6 separate regions of the Homo sapiens genome follow, and all the other regions are reported to be linked to region 1. Evidence: microRNA targets listed by miRTarBase, many of them from high-throughput screens and not tested one by one. Region 1 holds a microRNA gene; each other region holds the end of a gene's coding sequence. Distances are between the middles of the regions.

Evidence for each region. Region 1 holds the annotated microRNA hsa-miR-4487 (AGAGCUGGCUGAAGGGCAG, at 2,385-2,403, opposite strand). A microRNA usually pairs through its seed, bases 2 to 8, with sites in the 3' UTR of a target mRNA and lowers its output. Matches are read on the target gene's strand: a 7mer-m8 pairs with bases 2 to 8, a 7mer-A1 pairs with bases 2 to 7 and ends in A, and an 8mer does both.
Region 2: the mRNA of PCNX2 is a reported target of hsa-miR-4487. The part of its 3' UTR that is shown has no 7-base or 8-base seed match.
Region 3: the mRNA of IGSF9B is a reported target of hsa-miR-4487. Seed matches in the 3' UTR shown: 7mer-m8 at 3,637-3,643 and 7mer-m8 at 3,828-3,834.
Region 4: miRTarBase lists ANXA6 as a target of hsa-miR-4487. Seed matches in the 3' UTR shown: 7mer-m8 at 1,887-1,893.
Region 5: the mRNA of MYH15 is a reported target of hsa-miR-4487. Seed matches in the 3' UTR shown: 7mer-m8 at 3,126-3,132.
Region 6: the mRNA of TMEM9 is a reported target of hsa-miR-4487. Seed matches in the 3' UTR shown: 7mer-m8 at 2,257-2,263 and 7mer-m8 at 2,093-2,099.

What each region holds. Positions count from the first base shown.
Region 1 is chr11:47,397,981-47,403,386 of GRCh38, reverse strand. It overlaps MIR4487 (microRNA 4487), which reads right to left and starts at 2,417; the gene lies at 2,345-2,417. The region is part of intron 2 of SLC39A13-AS1 (SLC39A13 antisense RNA 1); the gene reads left to right. RefSeq lists an enhancer at 1,949-2,949 and a silencer at 2,999-3,358.
Region 2 is chr1:232,980,486-232,985,891 of GRCh38, forward strand. PCNX2 (pecanex 2) reads right to left here. Exons shown (of 34, transcript NM_014801.4): 34 at 2,950-3,992. The coding sequence ends at 3,819. NTPCR (nucleoside-triphosphatase, cancer-related) reads left to right here. Exons shown (of 5, transcript NM_032324.3): 5 at 1-3,397. Among named protein-coding and RNA genes, the nearest start is that of NTPCR, 33 kb to the left of the region's middle.
Region 3 is chr11:133,905,451-133,910,856 of GRCh38, reverse strand. It overlaps IGSF9B (immunoglobulin superfamily member 9B), which reads left to right. Exons shown (of 20, transcript NM_001277285.4): 20 at 1,580-5,406. The coding sequence ends at 1,788. Among named protein-coding and RNA genes, the nearest start is that of MIR4697, 9.6 kb to the right of the region's middle.
Region 4 is chr5:151,097,854-151,103,259 of GRCh38, reverse strand. It overlaps ANXA6 (annexin A6), which reads left to right. Exons shown (of 26, transcript NM_001155.5): 26 at 1,753-2,554. The coding sequence ends at 1,812. Among named protein-coding and RNA genes, the nearest start is that of TNIP1, 20 kb to the right of the region's middle. RefSeq lists enhancers at 4,505-4,554, 4,745-4,854.
Region 5 is chr3:108,377,538-108,382,943 of GRCh38, forward strand. It overlaps MYH15 (myosin heavy chain 15), which reads right to left. Exons shown (of 41, transcript NM_014981.3): 41 at 2,831-4,022. The coding sequence ends at 4,008. LOC124900545 (a long non-coding RNA gene) reads left to right here and starts at 4,003. Exons shown (of 2, transcript XR_007095998.1): 1 at 4,003-4,114. It overlaps HHLA2 (HHLA2 member of B7 family), which reads left to right. Exons shown (of 10, transcript NM_001282556.2): 10 at 1-748. RefSeq lists an enhancer at 1-451.
Region 6 is chr1:201,133,074-201,136,073 of GRCh38, forward strand. TMEM9 (transmembrane protein 9) reads right to left here. Exons shown (of 5, transcript NM_001288565.2): 5 at 1,699-2,742. The coding sequence ends at 2,590. Among named protein-coding and RNA genes, the nearest start is that of ASCL5, 7.4 kb to the left of the region's middle. RefSeq lists a silencer at 1,474-1,680.

The sequences.
Region 1 (5,406 bases):
CACTCTCGGCAGGCCTGGGATGTCCTTCCCCTTTCGCCATCTCAGTCGATTGAAACCTAGCCTGTTGACAAGGCCACCTCCTCCCTGCAGCCTTCCTGACCTGTCCATTCTGAAGGCTCTGCATGTCGGTGTGTCTTTGGATCCCTTAGCCTTGTCCCCTGGATACACAGGCCTCTTTCCCTGCCAGGTGTGGGCTGCTAGAAAAAGCAAGCTTTTGCCCATACTCTGAATAAAAGTTTATCCAAATCAATTTCATGTCTCCCATTCCCCTTCTCTTGTCTCAGGTGCACAAATTGGGGTGAAATCCTTGTGCGTTCTGCACTGCCCTTTTGGTCCCTGCAAGGCTCTTGTTTAATTTTTGTGTTGATTTACATCTTTCCTTACTTGTTACCCTTCCCCTATCCCATCTCCCTGTCTCCTCCTTCAGTGAAACCTGAATTTTGTGATGATCAGTCCTTTGCTTTTTATTTTTCTTTCTTTCTTTTTTTCTTTTTGAGACAGATTCTAGCTCTGTCACCCAGGCTGCAGAGCAGTGGCGCAATCTCAGCTCACTACAACCCCTGCCTCCCAGGTTCAAGCGATTCTCCTGCCTCAGCCTCCCGAGAAGCTGGGACTATAGGCGCCCACCATGCCCAGCTAATTTTTGTGTTTTTAGTAGAAACAGGGTTTCACCATGTTGGCCAGGCTGGTCTTGAACTCCTGACCTCAAGTGATTCGCTGGTCTCGGCCTCCCAAAGTGCTGGGATTACAGGTGTGAGCCACCACGCCTGGCCTTTCTTTTTTTAAAATTAGAGATTTTAATTTTAATTTTAAAATTTTTTTAAAATTGTTGCCCAGGCTGGTCTCAAGCTTCCGGGCTCACATGGTCCTCTGGCCCCAGTCTCCCAAGAAGCTAGGACTACAGGCACACACCACCACACCTGACTCTTGCTTTTATTTTTTTGATAAAGCTTTTTCTGACATATGTATGTATACCTAGACAATATTCCATTTGAATTGGCTTTTTTAAAAAAAAAACTATTTTAAGGTTTTACATTATTTAGTGAATTTAACAATTGTTTTCCTATAGGTTCTGCATAATTATTACCAAGTTTACTTCTAGATATTTTATATTTGTGGGGATATATATATATATATATATATATATATATTTTTTTTTTTTTTTTTTTTTTTTTTTTTTTGAGACAGAGTCTCACTCCGTTGCCCATGCTGGAGTATAGCACAATCTCCGCTGACCACAACCTCGGCCTTCTGGGCTCAAATGATCCTCCCACTTCAGCCTCCCAAGTAGCTGGGACCACAGGCACAAACCACCATGCTCGGCTAATTTTTTTTTGGTATTTTTTGTAGAGATGGGGTTTTGCCATGTTGCCCAGGCTGGTCTTGAACTCCTGGCCTCCCAAAGTGCTAGGGACACAGGCTTGGGCTACCATGCCCAGCCTAGAGTCTTTTATGTGGGTAATCATACCATCTCCTAATAACAAAGGTATTAGAAACAGGGAAGGAACATTGTTATTTGTAAAGATATGGCTTGGCTTGGTTTTGAACTTCATGAGAAGGGTAAGGACAGCTGTCCTTTGGCGTCCTGGCGGGGATGGGGGGGAGTTGGTTCCAAGACCCCCTGAGGATACCAAAATCCACAGATGCTCAATCCCTGATATAAAATGGTGTGGTATTAAATATTTGCATATTTAGCCTACCACATCCTCCCATATACTTTAAATCATCTCTAGATTGCCGAAAACAATGTAAATGCTATGTTAATCGCTGTTACATGGTATTGTTTGGGGAACAATGACAAGAAAAAAAGTCTGTACATGTTTAGTACAGACACAACCATCCATTTTTTTCTCCAAATATTTTCCATCCGAGGTTGGTTGAATCCATGGATGTGGAACCCAGGGATACAGAGAGCCGCAAGTATCCATCTTCTGGGACTGACTTTTTCCACTCAATACCATGGTGCAAAGATTCCTTCATGATATTGGTGAACCTGTGGGTCACCTGCTTGCATTGCTGAATGATCTCCACCCTGTGAATGTGTCTACTGTAATTTATTTATCCATTCTCTTATCAGTGGGCCCTGGGGTTATTTCAGGATTTTTTTTGCTATTAGGGACAACGTGAATATTTTTGTCCCTGTCTCTTGGCGCACTTGTCAGAGAACTTATCTTGATTTGCTGCCTGGGGGGATGTGTGGGTGACAGCCTCTGTACCTCCACTTCGTGAGATAAGGCCAGATTGCTCTCCCTAGGGGGCTATTTGGAGCCGCATCCTGACTAGCCACATGCAGGAGGGCCTGCTGCTCCCCTCCTTGCCAGCTCTGGCTGAAGGACAGTTCCCTTCTGCCCTTCAGCCAGCTCTGGCTGAAGGACAGTTCCCTTCTGCCCTTCAGCCAGCTCTGGCTGAAGGACAGTTCCCTTCTGCCCTTCAGATGGTGTAAATAGCATCTCATTGTGGTCTGAATTTGCATCGCCCTCATCAGCAGTGAGGCTGAGCCTCCCTTAGATGGTATTTGAGCAAATTCGTTTTCTCTGCCCTAACATGCCTGCGCTGCGTGTGTGTTATCTATTTTTTTATATTGGATTGCTTGATTTTCTTTTCCTTGATTTGCAAGAGTTCCTTATGTATTTTTGAGGCTATGCCCCGCTGCACTCCGCAGGCATCTCCAGTTGTGACTTCCTTTTCACTTTCTCTGAGGTGTCTCCGCTTCTCTCTCCCCCCCCCACACCTGTCCCAGGGAGGCCACTTGGCATTGTTAGTGTGGGGGGAGGTCGTGTGCCTCTCAGAGCCCTGTTTAAACTGACTCCACTGTTCCTCTTGTCCCTGGGGCCTTAAGGAACCCCTTTCCTCTTCCTTCTCAGACCCCCTCCCATTTTTGGCGAAGACAACTTAGTTTGGGGAGCTCCTATTGGGTTGTGGGCGAGTATCCCGGGACAACTCGGGCCTCACTGCAATGGTGTCCCCCCCCCCCCGTCTCGGTTATTTATCACTTCCGGCTGCCCACCTGGGGGGGCTGGGCCCCCTCTCCGCTCGACTGGGCCGCAGCCGGGCAGCTCGGGCGCTCCCCTGGGGGCGGGCGGCGCGGGGGAGGGGCCCTAGGGGGGCGGGGCCGGGGGCCGGGCCTGCGGCGGGGGCTGGAGTTGGGGGGCGGAAGCTGCCGGAGCAGATAAGGGCCGAGGTCGGCCCTGCGGTGGGACAGTGCGGGACACCGCCTCCGCCCCCGGCCTCCCCAGAGCGCCCCCGCACCCTGGAGACCCCCTCCTGCTACCCAGGCTTGGCATCCCGGGAGGAGACCCCAGGGAGCAGTGGGGGATGAGGCTCCAGCCTGCTCACAGCCTCAGCGACGAGCGGCAGCGGGGCTTCACGCCTCAGTTATCTCAGCTGGAAAATGGGGGTAGGAGCTCGGTTTTCCCCACAGGGCTGTTGGTGATGGACCAAGTGCAGGCTTGTGAAGGTCTCTGTGGGTTGGGCGAGTTTTGAACAGAGGGTCCTCTAAGCATCGCATCGCCTCATTCATCCCCATTGTATAGATGGCAAAGTGGGGAGTTTCACCCAAAGCCCCAGAGCCAGCATGCAAAAAGCAAGTGGGAGGGGGTTGGAACGCTTTCCACCGCCCCACCCTGGGGACAGATCTAGGTTCCCAGGAGCCTGAAGCTTAAAACCATTTGGGGGGGCACTCTTTAAGGAAAAGATTACAAAGTCACAAATACAAAATTGCTGAGAGGCTGGGCGCAGTGGCTCACACCTGTAATCCCAGCACCTTGGGAAGCCAAGGTGGGCGGATCACTTGACGTCAGGAGTTCCAGACCAGCCTGGCCAACATGGTGAAACCCTGTCTCTACTAAAATACACAAATTAGCTGGACGTGATGGTGGGCGCCTGTAATCCCAGCTACTCGGGAGACTGAGGCAGGAGAATCGTTGAACCCGGGAGGCAGAGGTTGCAGTGAGCTGAGATGATCGCACCACTGCACTCCAGTCTGGGTGACAGAGCTAAACTCTGTCTCAAAACAAAAAACAAAAACAAAACAAAACAAAACAAAACAGCCGTTCGCGGTGGCTCACACCTGTAATCTCAACACTTTGGGAGGCCAAGGTGGGTGGATCACCTGAGGTCAGGAGTTCGAGACCAGCCTGGCCAACGTGGTGAAATCCTGTCTCTACTAAAAATACAAAACATAAAATAAAATAATTAGCCAGGCGTGGTGGCGCTCTCCTGTAGTCCCAGCTACTCGGGAGGCTGAGGCAGCAAAATTACTTGAACCCGGGAGGCAGAGGTTGCAGTGAGCCGAGATTGTGTCACTGCATTCCAGCCTGGGCAATAGAGTGAGACTTCATCAAAAAAAAAACCAAAAAAATAAAAAACAAAAACAAAATTGCTGAGACCCCTTCCAGGGCCTCAGAAGGAGCTGAGCCAGTGAGGAAGCTCAAATGCAGCTTTCTTAGTGTCTCAGCCCCACCATGCAGGCCCCCTGGAAGGGGTTATACCCCTCTCCCAAGAAAGTCAGACACCAACAAGCTTAGAGGGCAGGGTGGCCCAAGGCAATATGTCAGGGAGGTGCCGCTGCAGCTGGTCCCCAACCCCTTGCATGCCCAGGCAGCAGTCCCTCAGCCCAACCAAGAGCAAGGGCAGTCAGGTATTTGCAGACTGCAGCCTCAGCCAGGCAGGGCCAAGCCCTCCAGTCCCATCCAGTCATGGTTCAACTTGCCACCCAGGGCCCCAACCCTGCAAGCTAGGAAGGTACAGAAGAACTCCTAGGAGAAAAGGAAGGAGGGGCTCTCAGGTATATGTAAGTGCATGGGACTTGGAGTTAGACAGGATTGGGGTTCAAGCCCCTGCAAGGCTGTGTGACCTTGGGACATCTCTTTTCCCTGGGTTTCCTCGTATGTAAAATGGGAGTAATAATCGTACCTACTGGACAGAGCCGGTGCCTGAAGGAGGGCTGGGCCCATGGCTGTTAGAAACACATTTCCCTCCTGTGAGATCTCCAGGCCAGGAGAGGCATTTTCTCCCATTTTCATGTTGTCACTTACCCAGGGGGTGGTCTCTCCATTGCAGAGCTGAGATTTAAATGCGGAAATGTCTGGTGCAGATGCACTCAGGTCTCACCACCAGGAATGCTGCCTCTTTGGGCCTGTCTCCCAGGGAGTTAAGTCCCACTGTTACGTGTTCATGCCCAGGGCTGAGAGCCAAGGGGAGCCTGGCTCATCCCCTTTCTGGATTTTATCATCTCTCTGGTCCCATGGGCACCTGAGGCTGGAATTTTTTCAACTCTGATATCCTCCAGCCTGGACCAGGAGAAGCAGGACAACTGAGAATAGGGACAGGGTAGGGGAGCTGGGAAGAGGTGGTGGCCGTGGGCCTGGAGGCAGCAGTGAGACTCTAAAAGGCTTGAAGTCTTTT
Region 2 (5,406 bases), not on the chromosome of region 1:
TAGCAGTGATAAACTGCTGTAAATCCAAAGAACGTTTAGTGTCTCTTGTGGTGAGGTCCTGAAATGATTGTTGTATTAGTCAAACAGAATGATCATGGAGCATGTATGGAGATGTCAGATGCAATCCCTGTATTGTAAGGCAATGACATTTAATGAAGGATAAGATGAATTCACAGATAACTAGAACTCAGGGCCAAACGCACACAGCCTGTAGCAACAGTGTCATGCTGAGATTTAAAGGAAGAAGAGGTGCCGTGGCAGAACTCCACGTGACCGTCCCCTCCCTGCACGCAGCCAGGATGAGAGGAGCAGAGCTGAGCGCCACCTCCCTGTCGGTGCCACGGCTGAGGTGAGGAGCTCTTGCCGGATGGTGGGGTGGGGGCAGCAGGGCAGATTGAAGTCAGGGATTCTCTTATACCTGAGTTTGGAATGCCTCCTATTCAAACAAAGCAAAATATCTAACAGATGGTTGGATATGAGTCTCAGGGAGGAATTCAATTTGAAAAGCACAGAATTAACATGTATTGCTTATATGAAGAATCTCAGCTAGAATAACAAGGTCGGATGGGAGGAATCAGGACTGATTTGAAGCACGATTTACTAAATCATTCTTTCCTTTTCCTCCTTAGCAGATCATACCGCCAGCTGCTTAACACGTAATAGTTTAATAAATTGTTTCTTCTTACCTCTCAGTGAGGGTAAGCACATGCAGGGAGATGGGTGAGTCTTTTAAATGGATAGTGTCATCTCTGATGATCAGCCTTGACAGGGAGAGATCCTAGTAAAGCTGCAAATTCAGGCACTCAGTTCCCAGCCCTCCAGTTATCAAGGGGGTGGGAACGCTGGTGGGCTGGAAAATGTGGAACAGACCTGCTCCTCTTCTTTTCCTGCCAATTACCGTATTCATAGAAGGTTGTGTCTGTGGATCACACCTGTGTGTGTGCTGATGGCGGATGCTTGTGTAGCATAGTGACTTGGGACAAAACAGCATGGTAGATGAGGCTGGAGACGGGTGGGCTAAGTAAACAGGCATTGCATTGCACATTTTGTGGGCAAAGAAGTTGAAGCATCGCATGATTTTAACAAATTACTTGCCAGATGATTTCAACACACTGCAAAATTTAGAATCAATAATGCCAAATTGGCCACATGATTTATATAAAACCAAGTGCTATGGTTTTAATATTATCTTTAGAGGAGAAACCATTTTGATCTGTGTCCAAATAACTCTTTTTTTTTTTTTTTTTTTTGAGACAGAGTCTCACTCTGTCGCTTGAGCTGGAGTGCAGTGGTGCTATCTCGGCTCACTGTAACCTCCGCCTCCTGGGTTCAAGCGATTCTCCTGCCTCAACCTCCTGAGTAGCTGGGATTACAGGCACCCGCCACCACGCCCAGCTAATTTTTTGTATTTTTAGTAGAGACGGGGTTTCACCATGTTGGCCAAGCTGGTCTCGAACTCCTGACCTCATGATTTGCCTGCCTCAGCCTACAAAAGTGCTGGGATTACAGGCGTGAGCCACCGTGCCCAGCCCCCAAATAACTCTTGAACTGGAAAATAACTCTTTAGCTATATACTGGCAGAATATTTGAACAACTCTAGCAAGAAATGTCAGTTTAGGGATGCCTCCTCTAAATGGGGGCTTAGAATATAACATTTTGCAGGAAGTCCTTTCTGATACATAGCTGACTAGATGAAGGACCAGATTAACAAGTTCATGAGTTGTAAATATAAAAGTTGTGTACCACGATAAAAAAGAAAAAGAAGTATGGCTGCACTGTTGATGGCTGGTCAAACAGCCCCCAAGAATCCTGGGGTGACTCCAATACTGCCACCTTTTCTCTGTGGGTGCAGTTGCCTGCGGATGTGTGTGCACATCTGTGCCTCGGTATGCACACTCGAGATGCCCGCTCTCATAGACGGTGCAGAGCGTCACTGCATTCCTATCTGATTAATGTGACCTTAGTGTTGTAGATACACTGTGTCACTTTCATCCTCCCTCCTCCCCACAAAAGATGCCACGAGAACTCGTGAACTGTGATAAGCAATGAACAGAATAACTGTTGAAGAAGCACCTCATGAACCTCCCCAGAGAAACGGGATGGAGGAGCACCCAGGGTGCTCTTGCTCTCTTGCCTGCGCTGCCATTTCCTTCCAGCCTGGGTTTCTAGCTCTTTGGGGAGATTCCCCGTTTTGTGGAATGCTTTCTGTGTTTCCTACTTCTGGATGCCTAAGGAGTGGCCAGTCATACTCCTGGCTGACCACTGCCAGGCACCGTGGTTTTCCTCACTGAACTCAAGGAGTCACCCTCCGTGGGGAGGCCACACTCACAGCTCCAGGCCTGCCATTTAGCCCTTGGGGCTTGGCTGTAAAGTTGCCCAAGAGGATTACAGGAGCTGCCAGCCAAGTTTAATTTGGCCACCTTAGAGAACTGCAGCAAGGCCCTATCAGCTTCCCATTAGACAAACAACTGCATTTAAATTAAATAAAGTTTGCACCTCTAGGGAGTGCTGACCTGAAAATAAGAACCTTCTGTCTGTGATTATAGAGTACACTTGCTTTTATTAATTGCTGATTCTTAGTTTACAAAAAAAAAAATTAGAAAAGCATTACCATTTACTTTCCAAGGGGCAAGAGATTCTCTACAATACCCTTCCCCCAACCCTCTCCTCAAATTTCCAAATCCTAAATACTTTGAAGAAATTTGTGTGACTGTTTAAAATTGAGTATTTCCTTCTAACTATTGTCTTTTGAAAAGGGATGGTTCACCAGGCCAGTGATACTCTATGGACTGCATTTTGGGACCTCTACCCCAGCAAGGATACAGGTTCCTGGGGTCTTGAAGATGGGAAAAGTTGTCTCAGAATTTACCCAAATGTCGTTCTCACCATAAAAGATATACTTGTAGAAATGAGAAGCTTCAGTATAACTCAAAACACTGGACGCAGCAATAACTATAAACATTTTAATTTCAAAAACAAAGGTGTGTGCGATGTTGTGTGCACAGTAAGGGTTGCGGGGCTTGGAGAACAAGCACGCGTCCCTGTGAAGCCCGCAGGGTGCTGGCGGCCCACCAATCGCCTGGACTACAGTGAGGAGCATTGTGTGACTCCGCGGTGGATTTCCATGCACCGAATGGACTCAGTTTCTAAACTCACATCCTAACGTATCCTGGCTTTTCACAGAATACTGGAGACATGACTGCATGCATGATCACGGTTCTTGTTGTGAAGCTGCCACCATGTTACGCTTAACAGCTGCATAAATATTATAAAGAAATAGGGTTTTCTTGACACTTAGATTTAACCTTAATGCATCTGCCCAGCTGATGGTATCAGACGTGCTGCTGTTCATTTCTTTTTCATGGTAACAGTAATGTATAAAGTGCCGATGATGTAACATGCAGTTGTCTTATTTTCATCAGGGCATTTGTTTCATGGCTCTGTTGAGTTGTTTTAAGTTAGTGAATGGCTTTTGAGATTTCAGATTCTGGAACATGTGTGGTGCTGTCCGCGGTGTGCCGCTCTGGGCAGCGCTGTGCCTGGCCAGGGAGGTGTGGTGTGGCTTCTTTGTTGCTTTTTTTTGTTTCCCCATCATGTGAGGTTTTTTTGTTGTTGTTGTTTGATTTTTTTTTTTTTTTTTTTTTTTTTTTCAAAAACCTGAGATCAGTTCTGTGTTCTGGAACAGCTCTCCTTTTCCACAGGAGGAGTCCCTCATGGATCGCGGTATTGGTTGGTTGTGGTGATTTGGGGAGCACGAGGGAGAGCAATGCAGGTGGGAGGTGTGGGGGAGCCAGCCTCCCCGCCCGGCCGCACGCCCGTCACTGCTCGTCTGACACACTTTGCTGCGAGGCCGTGTCGTCCAGGCCCATGTCCTCCTGGCTTGCTCTCCTGCAGACAACCCCGAGAGTGTCCGCCACAGCCTCAGCCAGACATCGGTCATGAAGCTGCCCCTGCTCGGTGGCATCAGGGGGCTCACATGGCTCGGAGAGGTGCTTCCAAAGAGAAGAGAGAAACAGTGAACAGCTCAGCAAACGTTCACTACCCACTTCTAACTGGCATCACCCCCATCCGTGCTGTGGGAGCTAAAGGCTAGCGCTGCCATATCCTTGAGGTCAGGTTCTAAAGTCAGGTCAAATGATAGAGGGCCAGCACAGTGGCCTCTGAGGACAGGACGGGCAACTGAAGCAGCATCTGAGACACAGGGGCTCTGCACGTGGGCCTTTCTGGATGACTGCGCTGGAAAGAGCGGCCCTGGGGGGAAGGGGCATTTGTGCGCCTGGCTTTCTAGCTGTAGTCAGTGTCACTTCATGCACACTTAGCCCCTGTCATGAATGCTGAGTTCTAGCAGGCTTGACCCCAGTAGAACACAGAGGCCATTGTATTCTGGGGGCATGTGGTCCCTACGACAATTGTCCATTTTGGAGAGCAGGAAGGAGAATTTGACAGAATCCCAGAACTACACCCATAGATTGTGACTTTAACACAGATTGGGGCATGGAGAAGGGTGATACTTTGTACATTTTTATTGAGGAAATAAAGAAAAGGGAGGGGAAATGTATTCTTTTAGTTATCTAACTAAGGTCAAACTCCTGAAGTAACCACCTCTTTCCTCTTGGCCAGGACAGCCTGGGGGTTCCAGGAAAGCCCATAAATCTCCCCTTCCATGAAAGGTGGCACCCATGGCTGCAATCCTGTGGCTCCTTGTAGGGCGGCCGGCCCAGCCTTGGCTTCCCCTGGCAGGAAGGTACTTCCCTGGAGAGCTGTTTCCCATGAAGGAGAGGGAGGGTGACACTAGAAATGTTCAGGTGCAGCCCCCCGTCTCCACCTGCAAATAACCTCACCCAGAACCAGAGGCCAAGCCACTGCAACTCTGGTGCTTGATGGAAAGCATGAGCCATGGTAAGGAAAACCTGAACACTCAAAAGGAGTGGGGGAACTCTCCAAACCTGACCCATTTTTGCCTTGACACCATCGATTTTCCCTGTCTACCAGGTCACATAGGAGCACTGCTGGGTATTTATTTACTTTTTTCTCACTGAAGAAGCTCAAGTATTCATTTCATCTCAGCTGGTTTGGGATTCTGGACAAGTAACAGCTTATTTGGGTGAAGTCCTTAGAACTCTCCTTGTCTAGTATTTAAATACCTAAAAGCAGTGGGCCATCTCAGCAGCTTTAAAGTCAAATCGATTGGCTGAGAAGCAGTGAAGCTCTAACTCCAGCATTGACAGGTGTCCTTTCCTCTCCCTCAGGCCAGAATCATGTGAGAAGAGTCCTGCTGTGTGAATGGGTGGAGGGCATTCTCCGTCATGCCCCGGTGTAGGGCAGATGGCCACAGTTCTGCAGAACCTCTGTATCCGGTGACTCCTTTCAGTGCCTGCCTGGGCATTATCGTTTACAGGATATCTG
Region 3 (5,406 bases), 87 Mb from region 1:
TAACCCATTTAAGACCCATCAATATATAGTTTTTATATATGTATAACATATATTTCTTTATTGCAAAAAAAAGTCACATCAGAGACCTGCATTGTCTCTTGTTCTGATGGCAGTGGTCCTGTTACCAGTTCTGTGGTGGCATCTTCCAAATGTCTGTCTTTAGCCCAGGTCCCTTCCCTGAGGTCATGGCTGATATTTCCAGTTGCCAGCTGAACGTGCACTTGGGTGTTTCATACGCCTTTACGATGTCTAAAGCAGAGTTATTGATCAGCCTCTCCAGGTCTGCTTCTCCTCAGCTCTTCCTCGGTTTAATCACTAGCACTGGTACCCACTGGGGTGTCAGGCCCCTTAATTCCCAGATTCTTCCCTTGCCTTCACATCTTACGTCGAGCCCGCTAGGTAATGCCTGTTAGCTCAGCCTTTGCAACATATCCTGAATCTGGCCACTTTCTGTTGTCTCTATTGCTAACTCTGTGTTCTGAGTCACTGTCTGTCCCACCTTGACTATTGCAGTACCTCGTGGCTGGTGTTCCAGCCCTATCCTTGTACCTTGCACCGTGGACTCCACACACAGCCACCACGGCGAACTGCAGGACACGTAGCGGCATCCTCTCTTTCAGTTACGAACACACACGTGCAGGCGTGTGTGCACATACACAAACACACACACACTTCTGATTAAAACCTCCCCATCGTAACCAGATTCCCATCGTAACCAGAACAGATTTCAAGCTCCTAGATGCCCTGCCTGTCTTTCTTGCCTCACTCTTTTCCAACTGAGATGACCTCCCTTCTGTATCGGGGACACACCACATTTACCCTTAACTTGGGGCTTGCACACATGCCATTTCTTCTGTTGGGAATAATTTTTCTTCAGATCTGTGGAAGGCTCATAATTTAAGATGCAATTCAAGTGTTAACCCTTTAAGGAGCGGAGTAGTGCCTCAGTTGACCCTATTTTATCTTTGTAGTATTTTCAGTAACTGCAAATTTTATTTCTGTGTTTTTAAAGTCTTGACAGTTTGTCTCTTCCTCTGCACCCTCACATGGATGCATAGTCTTTGAAGCTAGCAAAGGCATTCCTGATTAATCTCCAGAAGGGCCATGAGGCAGAGGAGAGGCCCAGGCAGTCCAGGAAGGGTCAAGGCCTGACCGTTGCATGCGATTAAAATCTTGTATAAAGTCGGTCATTGCTTGGGGCAGATGAGAAAGATGTCCTGAGTCCCAGCCTGTTCCTTCCTGATCCCCAGTCCCTAGAATGATGCCTAGTACTCAAGAGGCACTAAAAGAAATATTTGTAGACTGATCGAGAAAGAAATGAATGAGAAGGAAAATCCTCTCCATTCCACTTTCTTAACTCTTATTCAAGTGAAAGGAGCAGGGTCAGGTTGCTGGTTGTCTTGGCGGAAAAGAAGGTGGTTTCTCTGCAGCAATTCGGTCTGGTCTCTCTAGACTCAGGTGATTCCTTTGTTTCAACATTAGAAACCCGGAACAAATGCAGGTGGAAAAGGTGAGCAGGCTGCGTGCTTCCTTTTCATCCGCTTGCTTCTCTTTTGCGTCCCTCTTCCTTTCTTCCTAGACGATTCTGCCTCCCAGACTCAGCAGCTTCCCAACTCTCAGGTTCTGTGGCCCGATGAAGCTGTCTGCCTCCGAAAGAAGAAGAGACATTCTCGTCCTGACCCCTTTGCCCGGCTCTCAGACTTGTGCCACCGCCAGCTTCCGGAAGACCAGACAGCGATTCTCAACAGTGTGGACCACGATGACCCAGGACATGCCACTTTGCTGTGACTCCACCCCACTCTAGGTGTCCCCGGGGCGAGGTTGCTGGGCTCAGGCAGGGAGGGCCACTGTGTGGGGGTGTGTCCTCCTCCGTCTGCCAAGGGCGGCCCAGACCTTTGTCCTGCATGCCCCCTCTTTTGCCAGAGCGGGTGTCTCCCTCCAGATCCTGGCCGCCTGTCTTCAGGACGGAGGGTGGGCACACCTTCCACCTGTGGGTCGAGGTCAGGAAGTGGATTGGAGACTGGGCAACACCTGTCTCCTCCCCTCCGCCCCCTGCTTCACTAGGTTGATTTTTCTCATCTCTTCCAATGTCTTTGGAAGTGAAGAGGAAAGCAATGGCTTTTACTGCTCTCTGCTTCTGTTTCAGTTTTTCAAGTCCTGGAAGAAGGCTGGACTTAATGTCCATCTTCCACACCCCACATATATATAGATATAGATACAGATGCATATGTCTGTAGTGTGTGGGTTTCTCTATGTGTGTATATATATATATATATATGTACATTGAGGCAAAGTGCTGTTGCTCTCTGTGGTCAGTGGAGGCAGGAGGAGGAGGGCAGTGGCCAGCTGGGGTTTGCGAGCAGGGCTGGCTGCACGTTGGCCAGGTGCCTGACATCTGTCTTGGGGGATTCTTTCTCCCAAAACAAGATCCGTGTCTCTCAGCTGAATTCTCCGTGTGTCTCCTACCTTCTCCCACCCAGAGCAGAAATGGGGCCTTGCTGTGATTACCGGCTGCCTTCTATGGGGGTTCAGTAATGAGTTACTGCAGAACTAAATTCAAGCCTTTGTTTCTTGGTTCCTGGGTGAAGAAGGGGTGGCCAGGCTCCTAGACCTGCATCTTTCTTCCTTCCAGCGTGGCTCACGCTGCAGGAGTAGAGGCTAACTCAGCCGCGGGGCTAAAGCAAGCCTCTGGTGCACATGTCCAGCGCATCCGTCGGCGCCCTTCCGCCCAGCCAGGCCGTGAGCTCTGTGGCCAAAGTCTCCCCACTGCGGAGCCACCTGTGCTAGCGCCAAGCTGCCGGCTCTATTTATACCGTCCCCGGCTCAGCACTCTGTGCAGTGCTGTTCCACAGCGGCTGATTGGATCCTCCTTTGCTTTTGTGGGAGCTAATTCTCCAGATTGATTAATTACCACTTGTGCGGAGCCGCCTGTGGCTTTCCCGCACTCACCACGTGCTGCCTGCCGACTCTTCTCTGCCCCGGGGCCTTCGTCCTCCGGTGGACCTGAGCTGCAGGGGGATGAGCTCAGGTGAAGCTAGGGCGCCTCTGGCTGCTGGGGCCTGGGACGCTCTGGATCCTGCCCTCTTTGCCCAGTTCTATTCTGTGGCTGAGGCGTAGGAATGAAGGCGGGAGGGGTGGTGAGTAGGGTCTGGGCACTGACTCTTCCTCTGCCAAAGTCTGGTCCTGGTTCAAACTCGTAGCATCCAGAAGCTTCCTGAGATCATCTTCCCACTAAGATGTCTCTCTGCCGGTAAGATATGGTGCTGCCCAAGGGCAGGGCAGAAGGCCCCGAGGGCGGGGTGGAGGGGAGATCTGCCCCTCCCCCACTCTTGTGTAGGAGCCCCCCTTCTGGCTTGGCTTAGAATGAAGGTTCCTTGAAGTATTTCCTTCTTGGTGCTGCTGTCTTGGTGGGTTTGGGGGCACCCACCTCTCCCGAGTTCCCTGCTTGGACGTGAGCCACGGCAGCATTGGATGGCTTCTGCTGGTCTCATGCAGCTGCCATGGGCTTGGCCCAGTGACCTCGCAGGATGAGGCCTTGGATGGCTGCTGTCTCTTCTTGGCGTTTCCATCTTAGGGGATGGACTTCTTCTGTGCCACACCGGCCCTGGTCCTTCCTTTCACCCAGGGAGCTGAGGACCAGCTCCACCCTTGAGGTTTACCGTGCAAGTAACACCACCGCAGTTCCTTTCTGAACACATCTGAAGGGGTCATGGTGAGAGAGGCACGCAGGGGCTTCTGAGACTGGGCCGTGCACCCTTGGGGTGGAACCTGGGCCTTCCAGTTGATGTGCTTCTCTGGGGCGTTGGAATCCACTTGACCACTGGGCACCAGCTCTGCGAGATGGAAGAGCACACAACTCTTTGTGTTCTTTTTTCCAGGTAGCACACCCTCTGCCCCCGCGTCGTGATGTGCTGCTCACTTGGGCGTCTCTCCTGGGGGATGACGGGAGCCGGCTTACCTGAGGTGTTGGGGTGGGAGGTGGGGGCTTACCGCAAGCTGACGTGCAGCCTTTATGCACTGGCAGTGTGAGATTTCTACCCCAGAGGAGCTCACGGGGCTCAGCCAGGCCCTGGGATGCACTGGGATGTGGGCATCAGGCTGTCAGCCTTCAGGATGAATTTGGCCTACTTTTCTGAGCACCCTCCTGGGAATTCCAGCCCTCAGGTTAGAAAAGAAGAGGAGATGATGAGGTAGAAGGCTTTGCTTCTTTCGGATGTCATGAGAGGCTGAGATGCTCAGGCCATGGCTGTGCCTTCCAGGGCACCCCCGTGCTAACCCAGGTGCTGACTCCTCCTCCGCTTCCTCTGGCAGTGCCCATGACCTCAGCACGTAGACCCAACGCGGGGAGCCGTGCTTTTCGCTGGTCACCGAGTGGCTGCTGTGCTGTGGCTTCCCTGGCTAGGGCAAGGACGTCAGGTCTGCCCATCTCTCAGTGGCCTGCCACTCATTCAGCTCCCCTGAGGGCTTCCTCCTGTGACAGTGTCCTCGGAGGCCAGCAGCCCTCCTGCAGCCCGTGGACGGCGATGGGATTGGTGGAACGCAGTTCCCTCCGTGGATAGAGGGTGAAGATGTCACAGGCACAAGTTTAGGTGCTGGGTGTGGGCATGTGTGACAGCGTGGTTGTGAGCATGTGGGTGATGGGGGTGTAACCACCTCTAGGGACCAGTGTCCTTCATAGTCTGCCTTTGAACAATGGCAGTGACTACTGATCAGCTTCTTAGGACTTCGGCACTCACTCTGTAGGAGATCACGCCTTCCAAACTTCCCCTTTTACGGTCTGGCGGCCTTGCAGTAGACACGACTCAGATGTAAACCTGCTTCTGTGTCTCAGATGTCTGTCTGCCTCTTCAGCATCATGGCTGAGAACTGTGGCTGTTGTAGTGTCAGGTGACCCACAGACCAGGAAGAGGGGAAAACGGTTCTTAGCGGGGCCTGGACAACTGCATTTGCGTGGGGAGAGAAGATGTACGACGAGGCAGAGAGGCGAAGCCTGTCTTGATTTGCTGGTGGGCTGCCGTGGGCTCCCTGGTGCTGAGCGGGGTCCTGTGCTGGATTGTTGGGGTGGCTCTGGGCCCAGCATCTGGGAGTGGCCCTGCCTGCTGCCAGTCTGCCTCTAAGCAGCTTCCCTGGAGAGACTGGGGGTAGGACAGGCCTTTTGAGATCCTACTTTCTTAGCAGGAAGGACGCCTTTTTCCCAGCAGGCTGGCGGGGTCTGTGCCCTCCTTTGAGGTGCTTAGTCCCACAACCATGCGCTTGGGGGAAGACTGAAGCCGGGTGGATTGAGCCGAGTATTTCTTGTTATTTTTCCATGCTCTCTGTCTTTATTTTTGATTTGTGATCTAAAATATTTGGGGTTGAACTGATTTAATTTATTCCTCTGCCCTTTTTGTGCTGAGGAAACTGGGG
Region 4 (5,406 bases), not on the chromosome of region 1:
GTTGGAAGGCCAAGGCAGGTGGATCACTTGAGGTCAGGAGTTCAAGACCAGCCTGGCCAACATGGTGAAACCCTGTCTCTACTAAAAATACAAAAATTAGCTGGGTGTGTTGGCTCATGCCTGTAATCCCAGCTACTCAGGAGGCTGAGGCAAGAGAATCGCTTGAACCCAGGAGGTAGAGGTTGCAGTGAGCTGAGATCACGCCACTGCACTCCAGCCTGGGCAACAGAGCAAGACTCCATCTCAAAAACAGACAAACAAACAAACGAAAAACTTACATATCATAAAATTCACCTGTTTTAAGGGTACAATTCAACAGTTTTTAGTAAATTTACTGAGTTGTACAACCATTCCCATAATGCAGCTGGTTTCCAAACACTTCTATCATCCCACTAAGCTCTCTCATACCTGTTTATCTAGTTCCATCCCCAGCCATAGGCAACCACCAAGCTACTTTGTGTCTCTGTAGATTTGCCTTTTCTGAATATTTCATATAAATGGAATCACCTAATATGTGACCCTTTGTGTCTGACTTTTTGTTTGTTTGTTTGTTTTTGAGACGGAGTCTTGCTCTGTCGCCCAGGCTGGAGTGCAGCAGTGCCATCTCATCTCACTGCAACGTCCACCTCCTGGGTTTAAGCAATTCTCCTGCCTCAGCCTCCCGAGTAGCTGGGACTGCAGGCATGCATCACTATGCCTGGCTAATTTTTGTATTTTTAGTACAGACAGGGTTTCACTGTGTTGGCCAGGCTGGTTGCTAGCTCCTGACCTCAAGTGATCCACCTGCCTTGGCCTCCCAAAGTGCTGGGATTACAGGTGTGAGCCACCACACCTGGCTGCGTCTGACTTTTTTGACATATGGAGCTTATATTTTTGCTCTTTGAGATCAGCCAAGATCTTAAAGTCTGATGCTTGGTTCTACTTGGCTAACGAGACTATGGGCATCTCAGAGGCAGTCTCTTACAGACTTAGTAGGAATGTAAGTAAATTGTTGGCACATTTTGATACTATATTATGTTTTAAAATCATACATCAAAAAATACAAGGACAAACAAAATCCCGAAAACCATGTCTCATAACAATGATAGGAGTCCCTCAGAAGGGAGATCCATACCATACCATGGGTCAGGAAGTTTGGCCTCCCCAGTCTGAACGTATACCAGACCACTGTGATGTGTGGTGAGCGTGATGGTGTTTGTACCCATTCCCAGCAATGGCTTGGCAGTTAGCACTCAATGTTGTTTGTTCAAATAAGAAATCACCTAACACGATATGCCAAGGGCCATGGGGGAGGGTATCAGCAGAGTGCCAGGGGAACCAAGGGAGGCCAGAGTTCACTGTGCCTCCTGACGCAAGAGAGTGGCCAGAGTGCTTCTCAGAGGAGAGGGCCCTGCTGGCAAATGGGATTGGGGGTGCACAGGGGCATGTTGGACAGGGGAGTGACAGGTGGAGAGAGGACTGAGATGCTCCTGGGGGAAAGGAACAGGTGAAGCTGCAGAGCTCTGCACAGGTCAGATCCCAAAGGGCCTTGAAGCCAGGCCGGGAGCTTGCATATCTTCCTGGGGATAAACAAAAGGGACGTGGTCACATTTATGTGTCTGGGAGATCCCAGTAGCCTACATGTGGCATGGGATCCTATGTTGGTCATGGAGAGAAGCCGAGGGAGATGTCCAGACAGATGGGCAGCCGGGAGGAGGGGGCATTGAGACTGGAAGGACTGTTTTCACTCACTCTGCTCTCTGCCTCTGCCAGGGTGACACCTCCGGAGACTTCCTGAAGGCCTTGCTGGCTCTCTGTGGTGGTGAGGACTAGGGCCACAGCTTTGGCGGGCACTTCTGCCAAGAAATGGTTATCAGCACCAGCCGCCATGGCCAAGCCTGATTGTTCCAGCTCCAGAGACTAAGGAAGGGGCAGGGGTGGGGGGAGGGGTTGGGTTGGGCTCTTATCTTCAGTGGAGCTTAGGAAACGCTCCCACTCCCACGGGCCATCGAGGGCCCAGCACGGCTGAGCGGCTGAAAAACCGTAGCCATAGATCCTGTCCACCTCCACTCCCCTCTGACCCTCAGGCTTTCCCAGCTTCCTCCCCTTGCTACAGCCTCTGCCCTGGTTTGGGCTATGTCAGATCCAAAAACATCCTGAACCTCTGTCTGTAAAATGAGTAGTGTCTGTACTTTGAATGAGGGGGTTGGTGGCAGGGGCCAGTTGAATGTGCTGGGCGGGGTGGTGGGAAGGATAGTAAATGTGCTGGGGCAAACTGACAAATCTTCCCATCCATTTCACCACCCATCTCCATCCAGGCCGCGCTAGAGTACTGGACCAGGAATTTGGATGCCTGGGTTCAAATCTGCATCTGCCATGCACTTGTTTCTGACCTTAGGCCAGCCCCTTTCCCTCCCTGAGTCTCTATTTTCTTATCTACAATGAGACAGTTGGACAAAAAAATCTTGGCTTCCCTTCTAACATTAACTTCCTAAAGTATGCCTCCGATTCATTCCCTTGACACTTTTTATTTCTAAGGAAGAAATAAAAAGAGATACACAAACACATAAACACATTTCCAGTGAGGGCCTCTGTCTTCTACCTAGAGCCTGCAGCCTGGATTTTCCTCATTAGAGCTTGAGGTTGTAAAGTCTGTCCAGGAGCGAGTTACGTCTTTAAATTCTTGCAAGGTGTTTCCCGGGAAGCGCACAGGAGAATCTGAGTTTGCAGCAAGCCTGGGAAGGCTGGCCCAGCCCTGCTCCGGGCCTCAGGTTCCCCCTCATCCCCTCTCGCTGTCTGGACATTTCTGTATGCTCTTCATCCATTTCAACCAAGCCCAAACTTCCTCTTTTGAACTATGCAAGGGTGCCCGATGTGATCTTGATCTGGAGAGGTGCATGGAAAGTTTCCTTCATGCAGGTCACTGATAAGCAAGTAGGCGCAACTGCAGTTCCTCTGCCTTCCCTCCCCCGCTGCCCTACTTCTGGTCTGTGGCTTTGGTCTAAGATTGTCCAGTGACCATGGCATGGGGCTGGCTGCTGGCCAAAGGGCACTTCTCCCTACCCTGGCTGACCAGACTAGTTTATTGCAGGTTAGCGCGTGTTTGTTTTCTTTTCTTTCTTTTCTTTTTCTTCTTTTTTTTTTTTTTTGAGATGGACTTTCGCTCTTGTTGCCCAGGCTGGAGTGCAATGGCATGAATTTGGCTCACTGCCACCTCTGCCTCCCGGGTTCAAGCGATTCTCCTGCCTCAGCTTCCCGAGTAGCTGGGATTACAGACATGTGCTACCACACCTGGCTAATTTTGTATTTTTAATAGAGATGGAGTTTCTCCATGTTGGTCAGGCTGGTCTCGAACTCCTGATCTCAGGTGATCCACCCGCCTTGGCCTCCCAAAGTGCTGGGATTACAGGCGTGAGCCACCGTGCGCGGCGCATGTGTTTGTTTTCATAGCTGTGAAGACAGCAACAGGCAGGTGAGAGAGTCTGGTCTCGTCCCTCCCTCACTTGTGACCTCAGACCAGCCATTGCCCTCACTGGGCCTCAGTTACTCCAACTTTATAGTGGGGGGTTGGATCCAACAATTTTGAAGAGCTCTCTCTTAATCTCTGACATAATGAGTCTGAAACAAAGAAAAGTTACCTTACCGTGTCTTTACTTCCTTTCTTCTGGGCTGTGAACTCAAGTGCCTTGAGGGCCAGCTAAGAGCTTTTTGGGATATTTGTCTAACTTAATTGAACTGTTACTGAAAGATAAATTAACAAAATGGTTCAGAGTTTTGGATTAAGACCTTTGTAACTAACTGACCGTCAGCACAGGAGCTTCGGTTTCCTTCTCTGTAAAACAGGGCTCCTCATTCCAATTCCACCTATCCTGTAGCCTTGTGGGAATAAAAGGAGGCACCACGTGGAGGTGCTTGGCAGGGTGCGTGCCTGGCTCGGAGTCAGTCTCACTACCTGCCCCGAACCAGGCTCAGTTGTAGGGGCTGAAAGGTGGAGCCCATGATGCTTTATGGCTTTGATTTCATGAAGTCCGTCAGCTGCAGATCACAAAGGCATTTGAACCCAAAAAGAAAAGTGCCTTAAAATATATACTGAGGGAAATGGGCTTGGGGCAGAAAGGAAAGAAGAGTGGAATCAGGGAATAGAAGTGAGGAGAGCCCATGGAGCTGAGGGGAACACAGAAGAGGAGGCCTAGAAACCAGGAATGAGGACAGCTAAAATCGGGCAGTAGCTGTCTGATGCCTCCCTAATGCCTCAGCATGCATTTTCCACATAATTTTCAGTTAAGGTAGTTGCATTCTGGTACTGGTCGGTAGCAGGAAGGAAACCCTAAGAGTTTGTGAGGTGAGGTAGACAAGATGAGAAGTGACAGTTTGTCTCCAATTAAGGAGGACTTTAAATGTCAGGATTTTCTCTGATAACCTAGGGGAAGCCTTTGGAGTTCTTGAGTGGGGAAGGTGTGCGTCTAGCTATGCTCTGAGGACAAATGTAGGAAGGCAGGGTGCCATTCGGGAGCCTTTTGCAACGGTCCTACTAAGAGCTCGGTGCCAGCTGAACAAACCACATTTTTTTCTTGGAGTTTTAGCAGAGGAGGAGAGTAGCCACTGTTCTGAACCAGAGCACCCCATTCATGCATGCATGCAGTTTACACTTAATGAGTGGCTCCTATGTTCCATGCCACGTGCTAGGTGCAAAACATACAAACCAATGTGGTTCTGGTGCTTAAGGAGCTTCCACTGAGTGTCCCTCCTGCTCAGCTCTCTCCAAAATGACACTGGAGATTGCTTCTGTGGCCAAAGTTTAATCGGGAGAAGCGATGGGGGCTAATTTAAAACTAAAAGGAAAGAGAAAGCAGAAGCCCAAACCGCTGCTGTCTCAAAGTGGGAGAAAGGGAGGCTGGCTGTGATGTTCTAAGGGTAGAAGGGGCCCTCAGAAATTCTCACCTCCCTCCCTCACTTGCAGATGAAACAACTGTCACTTCCACAGAGAGGAAGCAACTGGCCCAGGGTACATAGCAAGCTAGCAGCAGACAGAACTGGAATTGCCATCCCGGCCAGGGCCGGTGCTTTTAGAAGCACCCTGTGTTTTCTCCTTTTGTCGTCACCTGTGGAGGTGGGCTTCAATACTCTCTAGCTCCTCACTGCTCCCCCTCCTGCCTTGAGCCTTGCATTTTCCCTTTAGGGCAAACTGTTACAAGCTCTGAACTGGGATGGGCCAATCTTGGTCTTTGGGGCCACTAGGAAATACCCGAAGGAAGTTGCCCATTGGGAGGGGGGGTGCCCTTTTAACCTGAGCAGAGAGCAGCTATTTAGGAATTGCCACTCAACCTCCTGCCCGTGGCGGTGGTGTGGGAACCGCTGGCTGTTTAAAGTTTCCCTATGGCCAGGTGCCGTGGCCCGTGCCTGTAACCCCAGCACTTTGGGAGGCCA
Region 5 (5,406 bases), not on the chromosome of region 1:
TCTCATTCATTTACATTTCTGTTACAGTCAGCCCAGGAGGTTACAGTGAGCTCTCCACTAAGAATCTGGAAGAAATGCATCACTAGGGGTTGATTCCCAATCTGATCAACTGATAATGGGTGAGAGAGCAGGTAAGAGCCAAAGTCACCTTAGTGGAAAGGTTAAAAACCAGAGCCTGGAAACCAAGATGATTGATTTGACAAGGTATTTTAGTCTAGTTTTATATGAACGGTTGTATCAGGGTAACCAACTCGATTTGGGATGAATCTTAGGGCACCAAAGACTAAGACAGTATCTTTAAGATTGCTAGGGAAAAGGGCCCTATGTGTCAGGCCTCTGAGCCCAAGCCAAGCATCGCATCCCCTGTGATTTGCACGTATACATCCAGATGGCCTAAAGTAACTGAAGATCCACAAAAGAAGTAAAAATAGCCTTAACTGATGACATTCCACCATTGTGATTTGTTCCTGCCCCACCCTAACTGATCAATGTACTTTGTAATCTCCCCCACCCTTAAGAAGGTACTTTGTAATCTTCCCCACCCTTAAGAAGGTTCTTTGTAATTCTCCCCACCCTTGAGAATGTACTTTGTGAGATCCACCCTGCCCACAAAACATTGCTCTTAACTTCACCGCCTAACCCAAAACCTATAAGAACTAATGATAATCCATCACCCTTCGCTGACTCTCTTTTCGGACTCAGCCCACCTGCACCCAGGTGAAATAAACAGCTTTATTGCTCACACAAAGCCTGTTTGGTGGTCTCTTCACATGGATGCACATGAAACTATGAACATAAGAATCTCTGAAGTTAGGTTACACTTGACCACACAAGGCTTGCATAGTTGAGTGACTAGCCATGAAGATAATTTAAACAACTCTTCTGGCTCAATTGGCATATTGCTAATCAATCTTCTAATAAATTTAGATTTTCATATAAATTTTTAAGCAAGAGAAGGGAGAACTCAGCTAACCTAATCTGTTTCCCTTAATTTTAGTCATCAATTTACATAAAAGAAACAGTCTAATGTTAATGCTTGTGAACTTGTCACTATAACCAGGCTTTTGTGTGACTTAGTAGATCAAGGTTTCAACTCTATAAGAGAAAGCAAATTCTGAATTGTGGTGTAACTGCCACCTGGTCCAATTTTATCTGACCTCAGTTTCACAATCCTCTCCTTGTATGTAGTTAACTCTGTTTTTGCTACAATGTTGTGATGGGTTATCACAAATAGCAAAGTATTAAGAATTCCAGTCAGAATGTTAATTATTAAAAAGTCAAACAATAGATGCTGGCAAGGCTGTGGAGAAACAGGAATGCCTTTACACTCTTGGTGGGAATGTAAATTAGTTCAACCATTGTGGAAGACTGTGTGGCGATTCCTCAAGGATCTAGAAACAGAAATACCATTTGAACCAGCAATCCCATTACTGGGTATATACCCAAAGGATTATAAATCATTCTACTATAAAGACACATGCACATGTATGTTTATTGCACTATTTACAATAGTAAAGACATGGAACCAACCCGAATACCCATCAATGGTAGACTGGATAAAGAAAATGTGATACAAACACCATGGAATACTATGCAGCCATGAAAAGGAATGAGATCATGTCCTTTGCATGGACATGGATGAAGCTGGAAGCCATCATTATCAGCAAACTAACACAGGAACAGAAAACCAAACCACATGTTCTCACTCATAAGTGGGAGCTGAACAAGGAGAACACATGGACACAGGGAGGGGAACAACACACACCAGGGCCTGTTGCAGGGTGGGGGGCGGGGGAGGGAACCTAGAGGACGGTTCAATAGGTACAGCAAACCACCATGGCACACATATACCTATGTAACAAACCTGCATGTTCTGCACGTGTATCCCAGAACTTACTTAAAGTAAATTTTTTTTAAAAAAATAAATATAACTTAGATATCTTTTAAAAAAATTCCATTGTGAAGAAAAACTCCATTGAGATAATATTTGTCTACCATCTCTGCTTCCCCCTAGCCTTGGTTCCTTTTTAAAAATTGTGTCCTAGTGAGAGAACATGATACTTAATAACAAAACTGGATGCATCCCCAAGCTGAAGTTTTACTTTACTGAGTATGTGCCTGGGGTGTGGAGAAACAATAGCATCCTAACTTCAGGATTGGTAATATGACAACAGCAAATTTCTAAGAAAAGGTTTGGGATATAGAGATGTTTCCTGAATATAAACATTGGCTTATTAAAGGATAATTCCAAACATTTTTTACTGAAGTTTTAAAAAATTACTATTCCAGGAAAAAAAAAAAACCCTAGAAAAGTTCCATGTTAAATGTTTCATGTTGTTTTCTCATTGCGTTAAGACCGATGGTAAGAAGGAGCGACTGCTTTGGATACAGCCCGACACACATACCTGCTAGTTCACTCTGTGGCTGTGCATCCCTCTCCGCCAACCACAAAACTCAAATTTGGTTCACCTTGCTCAAAATGGTACCCTGATTTTTCAAGAGCATCCACTTTGATCTGTCTGAGCCAACCCTGACAATTGCAGTCCTCTTGCCACTAGACTGGTTCAGCATAAGCAGATAAAGAAATCTGCTCACTAGGGTATGAGGAAAATTATTCCAGAGGTCTGTTTCTGGGAAAGTGTTTCTCCATTTTAAGAAGAGACAGGTTATCGTATGGGGAGAAAATGCTCAGGACTGCTGAAGTCCTCTTACGGCGACAAGAGATTCCGACAAGAATGAACCTGGGTCCTCTGATACCACTGAGTCCCTGAATTAATCGTCAAGCTACCCATATGAGTCAGGGTTGGATCAGGGAGGCAGAATCAGAGAATGACAGAATAAAGATTTATTATAGAGCTTCAGCCTTACACAATTGTGGGTGCTGGTGGAGAAGTCTAGGCCAGGCTGTTCCCTCTGCATCTGGTTCTGGGCCTGAAGTCACTGTAGGTCGACTGTGAATGCAGCAAGGATGAAGGGAAGTCCATAAGAACAAACAGAACCCATGTCTGTCTCACGGCCTCCACTGCAATGCTGTGTGTGATCTCAGGAAAAGCTGATGCTGGTTGCCATGGAGCTGCACACACACCTGGCCAGTACTTTGCAAAGCTGAAGGAGGAGGCTGGCAGGAGCTGGAAGAGCTCTGGGTCCAGGGAGCTGTCTCTGGTCTCTTCTAGCTCCCCTTTTTGGCCTGGAGTCATATTTTCAAGCTGTCACCATGCTTGGGTCTGTACACTGACCTTATGAGTATAAAATAGCTGCTGATCAAATTAATGCAAATTTCTTTATGACCTACTCCAATCCAGAACCATGAGAGAGAGGAATTCCGGGACATGTTCCTCCAGCTGAGCCAAATCGGTACTGCACAAATCCAGCATATTACCTGTCACTGAATGTCTCGTGTGGGGTTACCTCCATGTTTAAAGCATGTACCAGCATATAGCCTACATGTGTGTTGATTAGGAGAGTTTTGCCTACATGTTCAAATTGCCTAACTATAGCTATATTTATATCACAATGCTGAGGAGATCTTATGACTTCCATTCTACCACTGCTGGCTCACAATATACATTCATAGATTTAGGGGTGAATCAAGCCAAAGTTGCCTAACTTTAGTAAAAACCATTCACCAACATGCCCTAGTCCCCATGAAGCGTGACTGGTCTAAGGACATCTTCTATGAGTCCTACCCATTAAGAGGAAATATGGACAAAGGATCAAGTATTTATTCATTTTTTAAACATCAGAATTGAAAAGGTTCTTCCATTTATTTAATCTGTCATGTGAAGCATTAGAAGGTAGTTTACTTGCATTTGAGGATCAAAAAATCCCCATTAACTGTGGAAGCAATGATATTCCCTTTAATTATTTTTCTAATTGCCTTGTTTATATGGTGTGAAAAGCAATTTAAACATGTTTTTAAAAATGTTTCCATGCAACCTAAGTTTTTGGCCATGAAACAGCACCTTCCTTGTACTTCTCCAGCTGTTGTCCTTTCAAAGCAGGGGATGCTATTCTTCTTGAACCTGAAAAACAGAATGTCAGTGTGTTCTGTGAATTTCCTGTGATTTTCACCAGTGGAACACATGTCCAGAACCAAGCTGAGTCCCTTCCAGAGGTAAGCAGGCCTTAGCCAACTCTTCATTAACTTCAAAGGGAGGCAGGGAATTGAGGCAATTATCTGCATTACAGAAAGCAGACCCTGGTAATTCACCCCAAGGGCATGCTCGGTCACTCTCAATTTTCTGCCTGCCTTGTCTTGCCAATGAAGGCAGCGCCCCCCTTTGCCAACCCCATAAGGAGAAAGATTCTGCAGCCACATCACCAGTTTGCTCCCCAGCCCTGACACAGAATTCTATCAGCAAACCTCTTCCTTGTGCATATGACAGTTGAGGATTTTTTGGCTTTTCTTCTGTGAAGGGGAAACAATTAGTCATTGCACTGCCAAGGAAGGTTTTCCTATTCCTCTCTGGCCTCTCAAAAGCAATTTCTACTTCACTCACTCTGTTCTTTGTTGAAAATAACTGTGACAAAGTCGAATGCATGGCATCTGTTTTGAAGGCCCTTCAACCTCCTGCAGCTGAATGCAATTGCAGCACATGGGAAGCACCTCCCTAAACAAGTCATTACATGGGGTTGCTGGTGGGCTCTGCAGAGAAGACCCTAAATCCAGTGCCACAACACTTCTCAAATTGAGGCCAAAGTTCAAACCACTTAATTGCCCCTCTCGCATAGGACTTATCCTTGAGGCAGCTATTCAGGCATCAGTAAAAAATTTCTGGAGTCTCTCAATGATTCATATTTCTTATATTTAGATCTAAGTATATTCAATATAACCAACTCTTAGGCTCTCCTTCAAAAGAGATGCTTTTGACCTCCCTTAAGGTAGTATTTATGCATATTATTGGCAACCCTATCAACTTACCTTGCAGGGTTACTAGTAATTCAGTTAGGGCCTGGATTCATTTGTATAAAATAATCAGGAGTCCATGGAACAAAGATGATTTTAAAAAGCACAGATGGATCGGCTCAAAATTTGGAGTGAACTCTTTCCATAGTAGACACATGTGTGACTTTTTACCATGTCAATATGGAGTCCAAGAGGGAAGACGTTTAAGATTGAGGCAGTGAAGGAAAACAAATGCAAGAGTCTTGCTTTGTAGTTCTCTGCTTTATATTCCTGATTCTGCCCGAAAACACAGAGAAAGAGGGCTGGTGATGCACCACGTTTAAAAAAAAAATAATAATAATGAAATGATGGTGCCTAACTATGCCAGAAGCTATGCTCAGTGATTTCAGGCAATCTATTAGCTAATACCACATTATCCAATCTCCTTTGATTCCTTTCGCCTAAAGCCAGACCTCGTTTAAAAACTGTGTGTTCCTGGGAAAATTTCAACAAGGAAGCCA
Region 6 (3,000 bases), not on the chromosome of region 1:
CGTTTGGTTACTAGTTGAATCCTTAGTAAAGTGAACAGTCACTCCTAATCTTTTATAAATGTTCATATACTGGACTTATAGTTCGGCTTATTTATAGTTAACAACAGTTGTCCCAAAAACCACCAAAGCCAGTTTGGATCATCTGCAGGACTTACCCAAGCCTCAGAGAAATATAGCACTCAATGTTTCCCCCAGGGCATGTGGTTTTACAGGGGAGACCTGGCAATGTTAGGCACCAATTTCTGGCCTGGTTATTCTTGCTAAGTTAATACACCCACCTGCCCACCTTTGGAAAGTGCTGCTTTTGTATGCCTCTTGAAATAAGAGCATCCCCATCCTGAAAGAATAAAATAGCCCACTGTAGCTTCCACAGCAGTACTTGACCCTGGTAGGCACTGAGCAGCTGTCTAGTAAATGACCCAGTAGAAATGTTGTCAGCACCAACTCCTCTGTCCCAGCCTTGCATTTGGGGGCACATCTATCGCTTGCTAGCCCTACCACAAACTTCCTAAGTGCACTTGCTCAGGACCCCACAATCCACTTGGTCCCCTCTCAGCTGTGTCCCTTGTTTCCAATGCCAACCAGAGTCTCTGCTCCTCCTGGGAGCCCCATCTGCAGGTCACCCCAGTCCCATCCCCTTTACGCTTCTGTCTTGGAACTTTGGCAAACTGTTGCAAACTGACCCCCCATCTCACGTCGTTCTCTTGCCTCCCACACCTCTCCAAGAACCCAGCATGGGGGCCCACACAAAGGTTTTTTTTTGTTTGTTTTGTTTTGTTTTGAGACGGAGTCTTGCTTTGTTCCCCAGGCTGGAGTGCAGTGGCGCGATCTCAGCTCACTGCAAGCTCCGCCTGCCGGGTTCATGCCATTCTCCTGCCTCAGCCTCCCGAGTAGCTGGGACTACAGGTGCTCGCCACCATGCCCAGCAAATTTTTTGTATTTTTTTTAGTAGAGATGGGGTTTCACCGTGTTAGCCAGGATGGTCTTGATCTCCTGACCTCATGATCCGCCCGCCTCGGCCTCCCAATGTGCTGGGATTACAGGCGTGAGCCACCGCGCCCAGCCCACAAAGGTTCTTAATCCATGTTTATTTGGACAACCCTGATGACACCAGATCAGCTCAGTCCCTCTAGATGCCTTGCCTCTGCCTGGGTCTTGGACATGCCCTGCACCGCACATCCATACTGGAGCTGACGCAGTGCCGGGCTCCCCTGGATGTCCCTGTTGAAGCTGCTGGCATTTCCTTCTGTATGGGGCAGCTCGTTTTCTAGCTGCCCCCACCCACCCCTCTCCAAATACCTGTTGGTTTTCATTTGGGGATACTTACAGGTTTTGCAGGGAGCGCTATTTACTGTGTCTGTAGGATATTAGGATGAATCACGCACTGTTCAGTTTCAGAGGAACTGCCCATAAACATGAAGTAAAATCTCAGGATAACTCCCAAGGGCCAGTTCACCCTGTGCTCCTTGCCCCAGCCTACCCACCTCTTTCCTAATCAGGTGAGGAGGACTTCCAGCAAGCCGTGGCCTTGGCCTGATTGCACTGTGGCTGGCTCTGCCACGGCCGCCTGGACTTCCCAAGGCTCTGCCTGTCTGGACCTAGCAAAACGCAATGCTCTCTGTCCCCTCTGGGATACTACATTTACCAGGTCACTTGTGAAAAATTCCTAGTTCCCTAAATCTCTTAAAAACCAGAAAGTGAGAGAAATAAAACAATTTAATGATGGCTTCCTTGATTTACACACAACTCTAAGACAAGAGGACAAAATTTTCTCTCCATGCACTGGTACAACGAAGTTCAGGGACAAGAGGCAACCCAAGTACAGGGGCTGTGGTGTTCAGATCCACGCTCAGCCTCGAGTCTCATGTTCCAACCGACCGTCTGGCTCAGTGACTGTGGACACTGGGGAGAGGAGGGACTGCCCAGACCCCTCAAGTGCAGGTGAGGGGACCGGCAGCAGAGTATGCATGGGCACTCCATGCCCCAGTGCGAGAAGTGCACAGGGGACAGCGAACACCAGCTTCCAGTGCACCCTGAAGACCCAGTGGGCTCAGGGGGCCCAGCTCTCCCATCAGAGCTGTCCTCAGGGCTGGAGCTGGGGCTGGGGCTGAGGCGCTGGGGCTGGGAGGGAGGTGGTGATAAGAACCACTGCAGAAAGGAACACATGCTGAATGCTGGGCCATGCTTTCCTCCCAGACACTGAGTTCCTGAAGACCCAGCTTTATCTTCCAAGGGTAACAACATTCCCAAGACTCAGAGCTGGAAGGCGGCAAGAGTGGAGCCAGGAGAGACAGATCGCATCCACTCCTGAGGCCGCCTCGAATGTCTCCATTCCCTTCTGGCCTGCCTTCCCCCTCCCTTCAACCCCAAAGACCCAAGAAGACAACAGAGATCAGAGACCACATCCCTCTTCCCTAATCAAAATAGCCAAGTACAACATTTCTAAAGTTAGGGAGAAGGAGGAAAAATGCCACAGGCTTTTAAAGGGAAGACTGGAACCGAGGGAAGGGAGAAGTAGCCCCCTGCTTTGTCCAGCCTGGAAGCTGGCAGCCATGGTGTTGGGGCCTTGACCCAACCACACCAGCCCATCTAGCTGAGCATCTTGTGCCGATCGAAGACTGTCTTCCGCTGCTCCTGCACCTGCAGCTTCCACCGCTGCTGGGCACCTTCCACACGCTCCAGGACTGTGTTTGCTCGGGGTCCCCCGAGGGATGCAGCAGCTGCTGCCATAGAGCGAGCATCCTGTAGTGGGAAGAAAAAAAGAGAAGATCTGGCACGGTAAGCCAGAAGGGTCTTGGATCCTGAAAGTCTGACATGGAAAGAACGAACCCCAAAGCCTTACCTTCCCCAGACTGGGAGGCTGGGCCTCCCCAAGTGCTGCAGGCTGAGGACCTTGCCTTGTCATCTGCAGAGCTGAACACAGTGTGCCAGGTCTGCTGGAAGCCTTAGTGTCTGTAGCATCTGCAGGATGGGGCCCCTGCCCCTCCCTGGGGCCTGGGA